Regions from separate parts of the Homo sapiens genome. Here region 1 is linked to region 2. The links come from fine-mapping of genetic effects on gene expression. Tissue or cell type: lung. Region 2 holds a variant in brackets; the other region holds the start of a gene. All regions are shown on one strand. Distances are between the middles of the regions.

Region 1 (8,102 bases), 41 kb before region 2:
TTTTTTTTGAGACAGAGTCTTGCTCTGTCACCCAGGCTGGAGTGCAGTGGCACGATCTTGGCTCACTGCAACCTCCGCCTCCCGGGTTCAAGCGATTTTCCTGTCTCAGCTTCCCGAGTAGCTGGGACTACAGGCATATGCCACCACGCCCGGCTAATTTTTGTATTTTTAGTACAGATGGGGGTTTCACCATATTGGCCAGGCTGGCCTCAAACTCCTGACCTCAAGATCCACCCGCCTCCGCCGCCCAAAGTGTTGAGATTACAGGCGTGAGCCACCGCGCCCCGCCTCTCTTAGCGATTTTCAAGAATACATCGTCATTAACTACAGTCACCATGTAGTACAGTAGATTCTGGAAGGTATTCCTCCTATTTAACTGCCATTTTGCATTGTTTTGACCAGCATCTCCCCAACCTTCCCCCAACTCCCAGGATAATTTCCATTGTTTTTTTTTTAATCTTTGAGACAGAATTTCCCTCTTGTCGCCCAGGCTGAAGTGCAATGGAGTGATCTCGGCTCACTGCAACCTCCGCCTCCCAGGTTCAAGCAATTCTCCTGCCTCAGCCTCCAGAGTAGCTGGGATTACAGGCTCCCGCCACCACGCCCGGCTAATTTTTGTATTTTTAGTACAGACAGGGTTTCACAGGTTGGCCAGACTGGTCTCGAACTGGTGACCTCAGGTGATCCACCTGCCTTGGCCTCCCAGAGTGCTAGAATTACAGGCGTGAGCCACCAGGCCCAGCTGATAATGTGCATTTCGAACAACTTAGGTTGTGGGGATATTACCTGTTCCTGGACCACACTTTGAGAACCACTGACTTAACCCAATCCTGCCTTTCTGCCCCTTTGCTCAGCTTGCTCACTCGGCCAGCTCTAAGTTCTGAAGACTGCTGCAGAACAAGGCAGGGACCTGCTGTGATGGGAAAGATCCTGGATTAAACGGAAATCTAGGGAGTCCTGTCTGCATGCTGATTTGCAGTGTATTTGACCTCCTTTTCTAAGAGCTCCTGCTTTTTGTTTGGAGCTGCTGAGCAGGGCTTAATGCCTCTCCCACACCTATCCTCCCGAGGGCTCCGGCCTGTACTTAGGTTCTAACATCACCTCACCCTCGGGCCTGCTCAGCTGCCCTCTCCAACGGTGCACCTACCCCTGTAGCCGCCGCCGCCTCCGCCCGCAGTGCAGGCCCCGCCGCCGCCCCCGAAGCCGCCGGCCGCGGCCCAGCCAAGGGTCGCCCAAGCCTCGGAGCAGCCCTGGCCGCCCTCCGCCCCCTCCTGCAGTGAGCGGCCGGCCTGCGGAGAGGGAGCCCGCGACGTCCAGCCGCCCCCACCACCTGCAGAGCGACAGCAGGAAGGTTGGCAGCCACACGGGGAGCACGCCCGCCTCTCCCCGCGGCCCGCGCCCTCACCTGCCGCCCCGCCTCTCCCGCCGCTCCCGGGCGCCTCCGAGCGGTTCTCCAGTTTCTCGGGGGAGGCCTGAGTCCGGCCTCGGTCCCGCGGCCTCAGGTAGGCCCGACCGCCGCCTCCGGCCGCCACCAGCAACGGTTCCAGCTCGCCAGCGCGCACCTGTGGGGCCAGCGGCGTGTTCCAGGAAGCGCCCTCCAGCTGTCCAGGGGCACTGCCACTGGGAGAGGGCTCCCGCCCAGGGGGCCTGGATAAGGGCAGGGGCCCCCAGCCCAGCCCAGGCCAGCCCAGCCCAGCGCAGGGATAGGGGGACCCCAAGGGACGGACGGAGAGCCGGTGCGTGAGCGCCCCTGGGGAGAGGATTGGGACCCCAACGCTGAGCGCCGAAGGGAGCACGTACCCGGAAAACGTAGGTGGCGCCCCCGCCACCCCCGCCACCTCCCGCCCAGCGCCGCGACCCCGGGACCCCTTCGCTCCCATCCATCGCCGCGTGCTCTTCAACGGCTCGAGACTCCCCGAGGCAGACGAGCTGGCTCTCCGGGCTACCCTGCGGGCAGCGGGGGAGGGAATCGGCGGGGCCCGGGAGCCTCCCCTCGCTGTGCTGGTGACCCGGCACCGAGGAAAGCACGCTCCCCCGGCCCCCAGGCAGCCCTCGCCCCCGGCGCCGGCGCCGCCCCATCCCCACTGGCTGCGCTCACTCCGGGACAGGCGTCCTCTCCCTGCTGCCCCACCAGGATGTACAGCGACTCCCCGAGACCGAGGGAGAAGATTGCTGAGACGAAGACGCCATGCGCCCGCGACAGGTGGTTCTTGGCGCCTTTGCCGCCCGCGGCTCCGTAGGCTGAGATCCTGCGGGGAACGGACGGTGAGTCCCCGGCCTTCGGTGCTCAGGCCGGCCGCTCCGGGCAGAAGTTGGCGACAGAGGAGGCTCCAGAATTATTTTTTATCTGAGGGACTTGGAGGCTGCAATCGACTCTGACGGGATGGGAAGGGTAGGTTTGCACACCGAAAAATCAGATATTACACTTATTTCAGGAGGGTTCGTGGAAATGTGGGGAGGCTCAAGCACCCCTTGGCGCCGCCCTGGTTGGGGGCCTTCCGCTCGGTGTAAGAGGTTCCGGGTAAGGGCTAACTCGGTGGCGACTACTGCCACCTTGAAGGGCACTCAAGGTGGACCTCCCCGCGGAATAGTCCAAGACGCAAGTCGGTGCGCACGTGGACTTCGTTACCCTGAGGGTGAAACCTCCAACTAGCAGGTCACTGTCCACCCTACCTCCGCCGTGCACTTACAGATACTGGCCAGGGCCCGGCACGCGCCACAGCTGCACGCCTCTCAGCTGCCCGGCGGCCCCCACGGTCACCACCACGCTGGTCCCCGCGTACGCCCCGTCACATTGTGTCTGTGTGGGCCCATGCCGGCCGCTGGCCCCGCAGGTAGAAAACAGCCAAGACCCCTCGGTGCCTGAGAGCAAGGAGCGAGGCAAGGGTCGTCGAGCCCCTGGCTGGGCCAGAGGGGTCTGGTATGGTGAGCGAAAGAGGAAGGAGGCGTCTAAAGCTCACCCGGAGAATTCAGCGGGGAGGCTGGCTCCAAGATACTAGGCGGGGCGCTGACTTTCGGGTCCCGGGGGCTGGGACTTGCCAGCGGCAGGGGCGAGGACCGCAGAAAAGTCTCCTGGGACCCCGGGCTAGAGCAGAGAATGGCGCCTGAAAGGTGTTGGGAGAAGGCGCAGGACGTTAAGGCGGGTGGAAATAGGATATGAAAGAAAGAGAGAACCCCGCAACAGCTGCCCTTGCGGTCGCGGCCACACCCGTCACCCGGCCCAGCCGCGCTCTCAGCCTGGAAGCCACTACCCGACTCCGGTCGCAGAAGCCCCGCGGGTGCGCGCTGATAGGTCTGCCAGTTTCTCTCCTCGAGCGCCTTTCCCAGTGAATAACTTAGGGGCCGCAATGAATTTGGTCCTGCAGCCTCCCCAATGCTTTCCTCAACTTAGATTGGTGGCCCCGCCCCAAGGCGGTGCTGAGACCCCAAAGAATGTTCCTCCTTCCCAAGCTGCGTGATCCAGACTCTGGGATTCGCACGCACTTGGCGCTTCTCGGCCCGCACTCCAGAAGCACGGACCGGAGAAATTTGGCTGTGAGAGTTCGAGGCCTCTGGAGGAACCACTGACACCTGGCCTGTTGACCGGCCACCCCCAAGCCTAGGAAAGTGCCTCAGGCTGGACGGTCCCCTGACCGCCAGATAGCACTTACCCGCGGCTCCGAACCACACCAGCAGCTGTCCCCAGCAGCCCATCCCTGTTGGGTCCACCCGGCAACAAAAGCCCTTGCGGTCGCGGCCACACCCCTGTCAACCTAAAGTTGACAGCTCATTTTGCCACGGCAGCCCTGGCCACCACTTACAGGGGTGTGCTGCCGCTGGCGAGACACTCCCCGGACCTAAAGCTGGTCTGGCCACGCCCACCTCAGACCCCAGGACGCCAGAGGAGGAAAGGGAGGGGCGTGTGGGCAGCGAGGTCCCTACGCTTCCGGGAGGAGCCTTAAGGAGTCCCCACCCAGGGGTTCTAGTTTCCAGCCGTCAGATGTGCCGCAGCCTGCTGGGAGCTCCGGTAGGTTTGAGGCCGGAGAGGAGGTGCCCCACGCTTAAAGTGGGAGCCACACCTCGGACACCAGGTGGGGGCTTCCAGGTTCCTGAGGACAGGAGCAGTGGAGTGTGCACTTCATTTGTGGCAGTGGTGGTGGTGGTGAGTGTGTGGCATGCGTCACCACACGTGGGAAGTACTCTAAACTGCTCCAAGTAAGGCCTCATTACCTGCCATTACTTGTGCCTTTTAGTGGTGCCTTTGTGACTGCAAGGCTGAACCTCATTGCTACTCCCAGAAACCTGGATCTCTGTGTTTGCCTCATATAATTCCGTTGCCTGTGTTACCCCTGTGCACAGCCTCTCACTGTGATGGGGTGAAAGACTGGACCAGACGTTAGAAGATCCGAGTGTTTTTAGTAGCACTGAAGGTCAATAGATGATAGGTAGGTAGACCGATCGATCGATTGATCTTGAGCACTAGTACTGGCACCTCTGGTCAATGGGTGATGTAGCACAGGCCACAACTGCCCTGAGAGTTTCCCCACCACCTGCAAAATCATATGAAGGGAAATTGCTCTGTAAGGTACCCTACAAATGTGGGAGCCACTCCCTTCAGGTAGTTTTGTGTCTTGAGTCTTCGATCATTTGCTTAAATGATCATTTGCCGGGTGCGGTGGTTCATGCCTGTAATCCTAGCACTTTGGGAGGCTGAGGCGGGCAGATCACCTGAGGTCAGGAGTTCGAGACTAGCTAGACCATCATGGCAAAATCCCGTCTCTACTAAAAATACAAAATCAGACACACGTGGTAGCGCACGCCTGTAATCCCAGCTACTCTGGAGGCTGAGGCAGGAGAATGGCTTGAACCTGGGAGGCAGAGGTTGCAGAGACGAGATCGCACCATTGCACTCCAGCCTGGGCAACAAGAGCAAAGCCCCATCTCAAAAAAAAAAAAAAAAAAAAAATCCTAACTTGAAAGTCTGAGACCTATGTTTAATACAAAATACTTCAAAAGAGAAGTTATAGTAGTTAGCTACTTGGTAAAGTCTGAGTATAATTCAAGGTGTAAACAGAACAGTGATTTTGTAAAAAGTCTGGTCTCAGCCAGGCGTGGTGGCTTACACCTGTAATCCCAGCACTTTGGGAGGCCAAGGGGACGGTGGGGGTGGGGTGGATCACAAGGTCAGGAGTTCAAGACCAGCCTGGCTAAGATGGTGAAACCCCGTCTCTACTAAAAATACAAAAATTAGCCGTGCGTGGTGGCAGGTGCCTGTAATCCCAGCTACTTGGGAGGCTGAGGCAGAGAATTGCTTGAACCTGGAAGGCAGAGGTTGCAGTGAGCCGAGATTGCACCACTACACTCCAGCCTGGGTGACAGAGTGAGACTCCATCTCAAAAAAAACAAAAAACAAAAAAACCCTGGTCTCTATGCCCTACTTAACACTAGATATCACACTATGAGATCACAGAATTTACCTTGCAAAGTCTCTTTAAGCCACTGCTCTTCAAATTGTGGTTGTGTGGTTTGTTCTGAACATCAGCATCAGTATTACCTGGGAACTTGTTAGAAATGCAGATTCTTGGGTTTCACCCCAGATGTACTGAATCAGCAGCTTCTGGTGGTAGGACCCAGTGATCTGTTTTAAAATATCCTCCAGATGATTTTTGTCACAAAGTTTGAGAATCATTGGTATTTGCTGATACAGTAGTTGCTTAATAAAACCTATTGGGGCCACATGCTGTGGCTCACACTTATAATCCCAGCACTTTAGGAGGCTGAGGTGGGCGGATTGCCTGAGCTTAGGAGTCTGAGACCACCCTGGGCAACATGGCAAAACACCGCTTCTAATAAAAATACAAAAAACTAGCCCGGTGTGGTGGTGCATGCCTGTAGCCCCTGCTACTCGGGAGGCTGAGGCATGAGAATCACTTGAGCCTCAGAAACGGAGGTTGCAGTGAGCCAAGATCATGCCACTACACTCTGGCTTGGGCTACAGAGTAAGACTCTGTCTCAAAAAAAAAAAAGAAAAAAAGGCTGGGCCCAGTGGCTCATGCCTGTAATACCAGCACTTTTGAAGGCTGAGGCGGGCGGATCATGAGGTCAGGAGTTCGAGTTCAAGACCAGCCTGGCCAACATGGCAAAACCCCATCTCTACTAAAAATACAAAAATTAGCCAGGCGTGGTGGCACGCGCCTGTAATCCCAGCTACTTGGGAGGCTGAGGCAGGAGAATGGCTTGAACTAGGGAGGGGGAGGTTGTGGTGAGCTGAGATTGCCCCACTGCACTCCAGCCTGGGCAACAGAGCAAGACTTCGTGTCAAAAAAAAAAAAAAAAAAACCCAAAAAAACCTATTGGATAATTCTGTGTTCAGCAGCTCCATTTATGAAGACTGGGTTCTCTCTACCTACTGACAGGGCTAGGCCTTGGCACACTGCTCTGACTCTGGTTACTTGCAAACACAATAAGTAATCCACACAGCAAAAGACAGTCTAAGAAAGCCTAAAGTTTAGAATTCAGACCAAAGAACAATGTAGAAACTACCAAAATAGGCCAAGTGTAGCGGCTCATGCCTGTAATCTTAGCACTTTGGGAGTCTGAGGTGGGTGGATTGCTTGAGCTCAGGAATTCAAGACCAACCTGGGCAACATGGTGAAACTCCGTCTCTACAAATACAAAAAATTAGCCAGGCGTGGTGGCACTTGCCTGTGGTCCCAGCCACTCAGGAGGCTGAGGTGGGAGAATGGCTTGAGCCCAGGAGGTCGAGGCTGCAGTGAGCTATGATCACGCCACTGCACTCCAGCCTGGGCAACAGAGCAAGACCCTGTCTCAGAAATAGATAGATAGATAGATAGATAGATAGATAGATAGATAGATAGACAGACCGACCGACCGACAGACAGACAGACATGGGGTCTCACTATGTTGGCTAGGCTGGAATTGAATTCCTGGAATCAAGTGATCATCCTGCCTCAGCCTCCCAAGTAGTTGGGACTACAGGTGTGTACCACTGTGCCTGGCAGGCCCCACATTCTTGTTGTCTCCAGATGTGGACAAAGTTTTTACCTCCCACTTATGATTCTTCCCCATCTCTCTCACAGCAGTCCTGCTCCTCACCTGGGATAACCCACCCCCAGATACTAACCCTGAACTAACATGGCTGAAATCAGTCCAGATCAAATTTCCAGGAGATAAAAAACATTTATTTTAATGCACAACTATAGCATTCATATGCCTCAGCCCAGGGCAGGGGTTGGGAGTTAGGTAAGAAGGGATGCATTTAGTTTGCCCTGTCCCCAAAGAGCGGGTAAATAGCTAAGCCACTCTTCACTCCCAGTACAGACCTTCAGAAGCCCCAGATATCAGGATGTAATGGTAGGGCTCACTGCTCTAAAACAGCTCAAACAACCTGCTCCCAGGAAGGCAAGCCTTCTGCTCCTTGGTCTCCTGCCTACCATTAGGACACAATGTTCTTCGTCTGGCCAGACATCTGTTGAAAGGCTGGATACAGGACAACGTACCCATCTTTCCATCTATATCAACTATCCTAGGTCTCTGATACCCCATTTTGGAGCACTGTTGAAGTCAGTCTCTGGAGGTAGTGCTGACGCAGAGGGGGCAACTGAGAATAGAGCTCAAAGCCCTCTGGGAGCGTGGAATTGGGAAGCTTATAGTGCAGGAGGTGCTGCCGGAGACCCTGCAGAAAGGAAAGAAAACTTATGAAGTGGGTAATGAGATCCTGTTGTGGTCTCTGTCCCCCAAGATCCTCTAATATCCCACCCTCCTAATGGCCCTGACCCTACCTCATCTGCCAGCAGCCATGTTTTCTGCAGCATACTCCTGCGGGCAGCTTTGACCTCATCCTAGAAGCAGAACAGGGAGAGGTGGCACTGAGCCGAGGGCTGGTACCCACCACTGGCCTTGCTTGACACTTACCTCTTCCCCAGCTGGCCCAGAGGCAGCTCAATTGCTAGCTCCCTTCCTTCCTCTGAAGATGGAGATGTAACTTACTGAGCTCTGTGGGTCCTGAGAGAAGATGAAGCTATTGACATGAGCCACAGCCACAGCATAGAGCACGGGGCACCAACGTGGGCGGAGCGCACCAGTAACCAGGGTCCGGAAGT
Region 2 (8,102 bases):
CTCAAATTTTTTCACCTCTCCAATGACCTTTTACTATACCCTGTCGGGGTGCGTGTGTGCATTTCCTTACGTTCTGGCATTACAAGAAAGTAAGGAAATAGCTCCTCTTGTATATTTCCTGCCCCAATCCTAGAATCAGTCATTTCTTCAAGGACTCTTGAAGAAGTTATTAGAGAATAACTGTTATTGGAGAATGGTATTAGAAACCGAGATCTGGGCCAGGCACAGTGGCTCACACTTGCAATCCCAACACTTTGGGAGGCCTAGATGGGAGGACAGCCAGAGGCCAGGAGTTTGAGATCAGCTTGGTCAACAAAGGGAGACCCTCATCTCTAATAATAATAATAATAATAATAATAATAATAATATTAAACTAAGATCTGCGTGGTAAGTATGCTCATTGCTACTGGGGTGTCTTGCTTTTTGGACCTTCTCAACTGTCAGAGTAAGTGAATATATGTATATACTACAGTATACACACATATTTATAACTTTCTCTATGTAATCATCTGTATATATGGGTCAGTTTTTTTTTTTTTTGAGATGGGGTCTCGCTCTGTTGCCCAGGCTGGAGTGCAGTGGTGCAATCTCGGCTCAGTGCCAGCTCCGCCTCCCGGGTTCACGCCATTCTCCTGCCTCAGCCTCCCAAGTAGCTGGGACTACAGGTGCCCACCACCACGCCCGGCTAATTTTTTGTGTTTTTAGTAGAGACGGGGTTTCACCGTGTTAGCCAGGACGATCTCGATCTCCTGACCTCGTGATCCACCTGCCTCAGCCTCCAAAAGTGCTGGGATTACAGGTGTGAGCCACCGCGCCAGGCCAGGTCAGTTTTTTTTTTTTTAAGTCTACCTGTTACAGATATATATTATAATATTTACAGCTGAAATTATATGGCTAAGATTTGCTTTTAGAAACTTCAGCAATCCGGCTGGGAGTGGTGGCTCATGCCTGTAATCCCAGCACTTTGGGAGGCTGAGGCAGGCAGATCACGAGGTCAGGAGATCGAGACCATCCTCGCTAACACGGTGAAACCCCGTCTCTACTAAAAATATAAAAAATTAGACGGGCGTGGTGGCGGGCACCTGTAGTCCCAGCTACTCAGGAGGCTGAGGCAGGAGAATGGTGTGAACCCAGGAGGTGGAGCTTGCAGTGAGCCGAGATAGCGCCACTGCACTCCAGCCTGGGTGACAAAGCAAGACTCTGTCTCAAAAAAAAAAAAAACAAACAAAAAAAAAACAAACTTTAGCAATCTCTGGTTGTCTAGCGGTTAGGAATAAAAGTTGAAGAAAAAAAAAACCCAGCAAAACAACAAACTAGGACAATGAAATACAATTGACTAAGATAGTCATTGAAGCAGGATGCCAGGTACACTGGGGATTCACTCATTATACTGTTCTCTCTACTTGCATGTATGTTTGAAATATTCCGCTGGGCACAGTGACTCACGACTCTAATCCCAGTACTTTGGGAGGCCGAGGCAAGTGGATCACAAGTCAGGAGCTCAAGACCAGCCTGGCCAATATGGTGAAACCCCATCTTTACTAAAAATACAAAAATTAGCTGGGCATGGTGGCATGTGCCTGTAGTCCCAGCTACTCGGGAGGCTGAGGCAGAAGAATCGCTTGAACCGGGAGGCCGAGGTTGCAATGAGCTGAGATAGCACCACTGCACTCCAGCCTGGGTGACAGAGCAAGACTCAGTCTTAAAAAAAAAAAAAAAAAAAGAAAAAGAAATATTCCATAATACAAAATAATATGACTGGGTGCAGTGGCTCATGCCTGTAATCCCAACACTTTGGGAGGCCGAGGTGGGCAGATCACAAGGTCAGGAGTTCGAGACCAGCCTGGCCAACGTGATGAAACCCTGTCTCTGCTAAAAATACAAAAATTAGCTGGGCATGGTGGCATGAGCCTGTAATCCTAGCTACTCAGGAGGCTGAGTCAGGAGAATCGCTTGAGCCTGGGAGGCAGAGGTTGCAGTGAGCTGAGATCGTGCCACTGCACTCCAGCCTGGACAACAGAGCGAGACTCTGTCTCAATAAATAAATATGTACATACATACATACACATATAAAATAAGAAAATAGAGCCAGAAAACCCTCACTGACCAGGCTGCAGTTAAAGAGGGTCAAATAGAGAAAGACAGCCAGCCAGATACAAGGCATTAACACACATGCACATACAGGCACACACACAAGCATACATACATACACGCACATGCATACACACACATATACATACAGACGCACACACGCATACACACAGGCACACACACATACACACACACATACACACGTGTCCATACACACACAAAACTCTTCCACAGCCATCTTTAGGTGAAATTTTGAAGATGAAAGTTTTTCTTCCATGTTTGGACCCATCTGCCCTTTCAGAAACCGCAACCTTATTGCTCTACTGCTTCCTAAATCTGCTTTTGGAGGGAAATCTGATCATTTGAAATATTTCCTGTGACTGAAAGTCAAAGTGTGGTCTTCTTAGGAATTTACATTTCTGTGTCATCTTTGATGGGGCAAGAAGTTGCATTGTTTCTGGCTTAGGAATTTCAGGCAGTGGGTGTTTGACAGGGACAGCAACAGTCCCCAGCACATGTGGAATTACACATATAGGTAATGTTTCTACCAGTCCCAGAGGTTTCTCTAAGGTGAGGAACATAGTCTGTGGCCTGCCCCATCCCCCCATCCCTTGAGTGGAACTTGCCCACTCTCACCTCTTTTTTTTTTTTTTTTTTTTTTTTTTTTTTGAGACAAGATCTCGCTCTGTAACCCAGGCTGGAGTGCAGTGGCACCATCTCAGCTCACTGCAGCCTCCACCTCCCGGGCTCAAGTGATCCTCCCACTTCAGTGTCCCAAGTAGCTGGGACTACAGGCATGCGCCACCACATCTGGCTAATTTTTGTATTTTTGGTAGAGACAGGGTTTCACCGTGTTGGCCAGGCCGGTCTTGAACTCCTGACCTCAGGTGATCTTCCCGCCTCAGCCTCCCAAAGTGCTGTGATTATAGGTGGGAGCCATCACGCCTGGGCAACTCTTATCTCTTGAGACAGTAGTTGGGAAAGAACAGGTCTTTGGTTATATGACCAGTGAGACTGTCATGATCCTGCAGCTCACCATGGTTTCCTCTTGTTTCCCCCACTCTAGGGGTGGGGCAGAAGGCCTTAACTCTGAAAAAGCTGAAACAGCTGCTTCTTCAGAGTGCCGGAAGTTGGTAGCAGAGTGCCCTGCTTCTGTGGACAATGGTTTTTATCTCCAGGTTTGTCTTCATCTTCTCTGGATCCTTGGCCTCCTTGAACAGTTCTGGGTCATAAAAGGCTGAGAGTGGGCAGAGAGTTATTTTACTAGATTAGTGAGATGCTGTGCCCAACCTAGTCCCATCCATAATCAGGGGCTGCCGCTGGCCCTTCCTCTCACTCAGTCTTCCTCCACCCTTGCGGCCCCTTCTTACTCCTCTGGAATAGAGTATAGCTGCTTCTGGTTCTGTTCTAAGGACAGGAACTCCTGGGACAGCCACTCCCGCATTAGGTCAAAAACATTTCCTGT[T/G]GATTTTATTAGTTTCCTTCCAAACAATGCATTTATGGAAGAAGAAGAGCTTTTGCAGGCATGCATTTGCACAGGCAGCCAACCTCCTCCAGTCACACACAGACACACACACACCTCCACACCCACACGCACACACTTTCTTCCCATCCGCCCACAAAGCATCAGTCACATTTAGAATTTGCACAAATGCACACCCTCCCTCATACATCACAATGCACACCCTCTCATCCACCTACATGTCTCTTCCACAAAATCACACCTGCTCACATACCCTTAGAAGCACATTCCTGTACTGTGCCCAGAGAGAGAAAGGTGGGGGAGATAAGCAAGGAGAATGGGTTAGAAGGGCTCAGGAGGTCAAACCTCTGTAGGAGCTGAAAAGTCAGAAGACCAGGACCCCCCACTCCTCTCTGCCCTTTTTTTTTCTTTCTTTCTTTTTTTTTTGAGATGGAGTCATGCTCTGTCGCCCAGGCTGGAGTGCAATGGCGCAATCTCGGCTCACTGCAACCTCCGTCTCCCAGGTTCAAGTGGTTCTCCTGCCTCAGCCTCCTCAGTAAGTAGCTGGGATTACAGGCAGCCGCCACCACATCCAGCTAATTTTTGTATTTTTAGTAGAGATGAGGTTTCACCATGTTGGCCAGGCTGGTATCGAACTCCTGACCTCATGATCCGCCTGCCTAGGCCTCCCAAAGTGCTGGGATTACAGGTGTGAGTCACTGCTCCCGGCCTCCTCTCTGCCCCTGTAAGTAGAAATACTACGGCTGGGCAAGGTGGCTCATGCCTGTAATCCCAGCACTTTGGGAGGCGAAGGTTGCAGTGAGCCGAGATCACGCCATTGCACTCCAGCCTGGGTGACAAAGCGGGACTCCGTCTCAAAAAAAAAAAAAAAAAAAGAAATACTATGAATTGAGAGAGATTTAGAATTAGGGGTAGGGGAAGCAGGAACTCAGGGCCCCCTGTCCCACACAGAAAGTGTGCTGCCTCTGTGACAGTGATGTATCTCAGGCTGGTGGCTGAGGTGGGAAGTTTGTCAAGGCTGTAAGTGGCATCCATCACATGTCCGAGAAGCCCATTTTGACCAGTAGAAAAGGATGGCCTTTAGGGTGGGATTCCCTATCAGCTCAGGAAATGGTGCGGAGGGAATGAAGAGAGATAAGGAAGTAAAAGGCTGGGTTGGGCTCTGGGTCCAACATCCTCTAGAATGAATCTTACTAATGTCAGCTGGAATCAAGAGGAGGAGGCTCCCCTTCACTGGAAACTTGAAGTCCCCCTCAGAGAAAAGGCGGGAGAGAGGGCTTGGAAAAGTGACAAGTGCCCAAGAGCAGCCCAGGCAATTCTGCCTTCGGCCCCAGACTATTGTCTGCCTGCCCTGACTCAGCCCAAACTCAGAAACTGTGGATTCTGGAAAGTAACGAGACTTTTCCTTTGGGAAAGGGTCCTGAAGCTGACCCACAGTGCTCAAGAAAATTGGCAGAGAGGCCAGGCACAGTGGCTCACACCTGTAATCCCAGTATTTTGGGATGCCGAGGTGGGCGGATTACCTAAGGTCAGGAGTTTGAGACCAGCCTGGCCAACATGGTGAAACCCTGTCTGTACTAATAATACAAAAATGAGCCGAACGTGGTGGTGGGCACCTGTAATCCCAGCTACTCATGAGGCTGTGGCAGGAGAATCGCTTGAACCCATGAGGTGGAGGTTGCAGTCAGCCAAGATCGCACCATTGCACTCCAGCCTGGACGACAAGCGTGAAACTTCATCTAAAAAAAAAAAAGAAGAAGAAGAAGAAGAAAGAGAGGAAGAGGAAGAAGCAGAGAAGAATAGGAGGAGGAGGAGGGGAAGGGGAAGTGGAAGGGGAAGGGGAAGAGAGGGAGAGGAAGAAGAAGAAGAAAGAAGGAAGAAGAAGGAAGAAGGAAGAAGAACATAATTGCCAGAGAGCTCAGTGAAACAGAGACAGAGGAGACGGAAGTGAGCCACACACTCTGTGTCCTCGCCTCACCAGGAAACTACTAAAGTTCCTGGGGAAGCAAAGTAGAATTTCATAAGAACAAAATGGATGGAGAGGAGAAAACCTATGGTGGCTGTGAAGGCCCTGATGCCACGTATGTCAAATTGATATCATCTGATGGCCATGAATTTATTGTAAAAAGAGAACATGCATTAACATCAGGCACGATAAAAGCCATGTTGAGTGGCCCAGGCGTTTTATGGGTTTGGCTTTTAAATTTAGGTCTTTGGTCTTAAGTTAATTTTTGTTTATGCTGTGAGGTCAGTTTGCTGAGAACGAAACCAATGAGGTCAATTTTAGAGAGATACCTTCACATGTGCTATCGAAAGTATGCATGTATTTTACCTACAAGGTTCGCTACACTAACAGCTCCATCGAGATTCCTGAATTCCCAATTGCACCTGAAATTGTACTAGAACTGCTGATGGCTGCGAACTTCCTAGATTGTTAAATAAAATAAATTATAATAAACTGTTAACTCTTTTCAGTATGTAATACCTGTAGATCAGTTAGTAACTTTTTCATATATAGCATGTTGCCTGTATGCAGTTTAACTATATAAAGTTCATTGCAAAGCAGATTATCTTGTTTTTTTCATAGCAATCAAAGTTGAAATTTGTTTGCTACATCAACAAATTAAGAACATTTTCACAAACTGAGAAATAAACAAATATGCCAATTAAAAAAAAAAAAAGAAAGAAACAGAGACAGAGATATCTGGCCCCTGCCATCCATGTCTTGACAGTGCCTCATGAGTCTCTCCTCCTGCTGCCGCCTGGGGGCGCCCCCAGCTGGGTCTCAGGCTGCTGCCAGCACTGCTGTTGTTATCATTAGGGTAATTAATAAACAAGCACTGCTGGGGCCAAGTGGAAGAAGAGGCAGGCCCCTGCTGCTCAGGAGAATCCCTGAAAAGATCCAGTGAGCCTGCGGCAACCGGAGCTGAGTGGCTGGTCCCTCCTCTCTACCCAGGACCTCTGGAAGGGGTGTGGGGTGGGCTTCCCCCTGGAGGGAAGGGCAAGGGGAGGAGCACACTTGGTAGGCTTGGTTTGGAACCAGCTCTGCATGTGCCTAACAGGATGTCTGTGGGCAAGGCCACCCTCGTGATTACTGGTTGTGGGGCAGGCTCTGAAGCAATTATTCATTCATTTAACAGGCATCTGCCTATTTATTTATGGAAAGCCTACTGTGTGCAAGGTGGTCTACTAATAATAGCTAATGTTTGACTGGACAGTGTGACGACACAGCCAACTTTCACACCAGGTCCTGGGAAAAGGGGTAGAAGCAGGGGAAGCAACCAGGAAAAATGACAGCCCAAAAAGATACGGGCAATTAGGCTTTGGCCTGTGTAGTGTAGTGGTGGGGATATATATTAGGTAAAACCTGGGGATTACCAAGATCTTGGGAAACTCAGGACCCAAGTTGGAAAACATACGGCAATTGGGGCTGGAGAAAATGGGCATTTTTCAGGTGGGAGGGACTTGGAGATAAAGGCATGGCAATAGGACATGAATATGGGGATTTTGGGTGAATGGCTCAATGAAAGGGAGGCACGAAGGGATGCTAGCCGATCCTGTTGGGGGAGCCCCGGGTCACGGCAGTTTCGGGGAGCCAGATGGATGGGAGTGTCTAGGGGTTGAGGTGCTCTAAGTCCTGAGAGGGGGATGCTGGATTCTGGGATCAGAGTCCGAACAAGAGTTGGGGTGTGGTGGGGGCTGACAGCGGGGTTTTGAGGGAAGGCTCTGGAGGGCTGGGTTAGAAAAGATGCCGGAGCGGGTTTAGGGAAAGGAGGGGCGTGGCCGGGGAGCCCATCCTGGAGGCCAAGCCGGATCCTCAGGTTTGGCCAGGGGGCGGCTGGGGCCGGCGTGCCGGCGGGGCGCCGGCGGGGCCGCGGGGGTTTGCGGCGCTGGCTGGGATTCGCGCTCCGAGCCAGTCGCCGGGGCTCCGCGGGGGGGCGGTGCGAGCTCGGGCTGCGGGCGGGCCGGGAGGAGGCGGCGGCTCCGAGAAGAACATGAATCAGCGGCGGCGACGGCGGCGACGGCAGTGGAAGGAGCGCGGTGGCGCGGGAGCGGCCCCGGGGACCCCGCGCTGCTGACGGCGGCGACCGCGGCCGGAGGCGGGCGCGGGTCTCGGAGGCGGTCGCCTCAGCACCGCCCCACGGGCGGCCCCAGCCCCTCCCGCAGCCCTCCTCCCTCCCGCTCCCTTCCCGCCGCCTCCTCCCCGCCCTCCTCCCTCCTCGCTCGCGGGCCGGGCCCGGCATGGTGCGGCGTCGCCGCCGATGGCGCTGAGGCGGAGCATGGGGCGGCCGGGGCTCCCGCCGCTGCCGCTGCCGCCGCCACCGCGGCTCGGGCTGCTGCTGGCGGCTCTGGCTTCTCTGCTGCTCCCGGAGTCCGCCGCCGCAGGTAGGGGCTGGCACGGGAGGCGGCGGGAAGCGGGGGGCTGCGGAGGGGCGCGGCCGGGGGTCGGAGCCCGGGGCGGGCCTGGCGGGCTGGAGTCGGGGTGGGGGTCCGGAGCCGAAGGCCGAGGCTCGGAGCCGGGACAGGG

Which allele goes with the higher level. Alleles are on the strand shown, and positions count from the first base shown. SD is a standard deviation of normalised expression in the study named.
As copies of T replace G in region 2, the expression in lung of the gene that starts at base 3,811 in region 1 goes up (large effect, 0.86 SD a copy in GTEx).

The links. PIP is the estimated chance that this variant, and not a neighbour inherited with it, causes the effect.
Region 1: LTK starts here. The variant in region 2 is fine-mapped to the expression of LTK in lung (TOPMed, PIP above 0.99). The same link has a PIP of 0.9 or more in left ventricle, subcutaneous fat and thyroid.

Annotation. Positions count from the first base shown.
Region 1 is chr15:41,510,017-41,518,118 of GRCh38, forward strand. It overlaps LTK (leukocyte receptor tyrosine kinase), which reads right to left and starts at 3,811. Exons shown (of 20, transcript NM_002344.6): 1 at 3,651-3,811; 2 at 2,961-3,104; 3 at 2,691-2,862; 4 at 2,099-2,249; 5 at 1,801-1,947; 6 at 1,406-1,562; 7 at 1,148-1,330. The coding sequence starts at 3,693. It overlaps RPAP1 (RNA polymerase II associated protein 1), which reads right to left. Exons shown (of 25, transcript NM_015540.4): 23 at 7,990-8,102; 24 at 7,782-7,841; 25 at 7,160-7,675. The coding sequence ends at 7,526. RefSeq lists an enhancer at 2,643-3,390 and a silencer at 3,097-3,176.
Region 2 is chr15:41,551,422-41,559,523 of GRCh38, forward strand. It overlaps TYRO3 (TYRO3 protein tyrosine kinase), which reads left to right and starts at 7,791. Exons shown (of 19, transcript NM_006293.4): 1 at 7,791-7,960. The coding sequence starts at 7,837. It also overlaps the pseudogene ELOCP2. RefSeq lists silencers at 1,109-1,210, 7,440-7,529, 7,475-7,641, 7,580-7,719, 7,730-7,899 and an enhancer at 7,210-7,711. The variant T/G (reference allele first, on the strand shown) is at 3,557.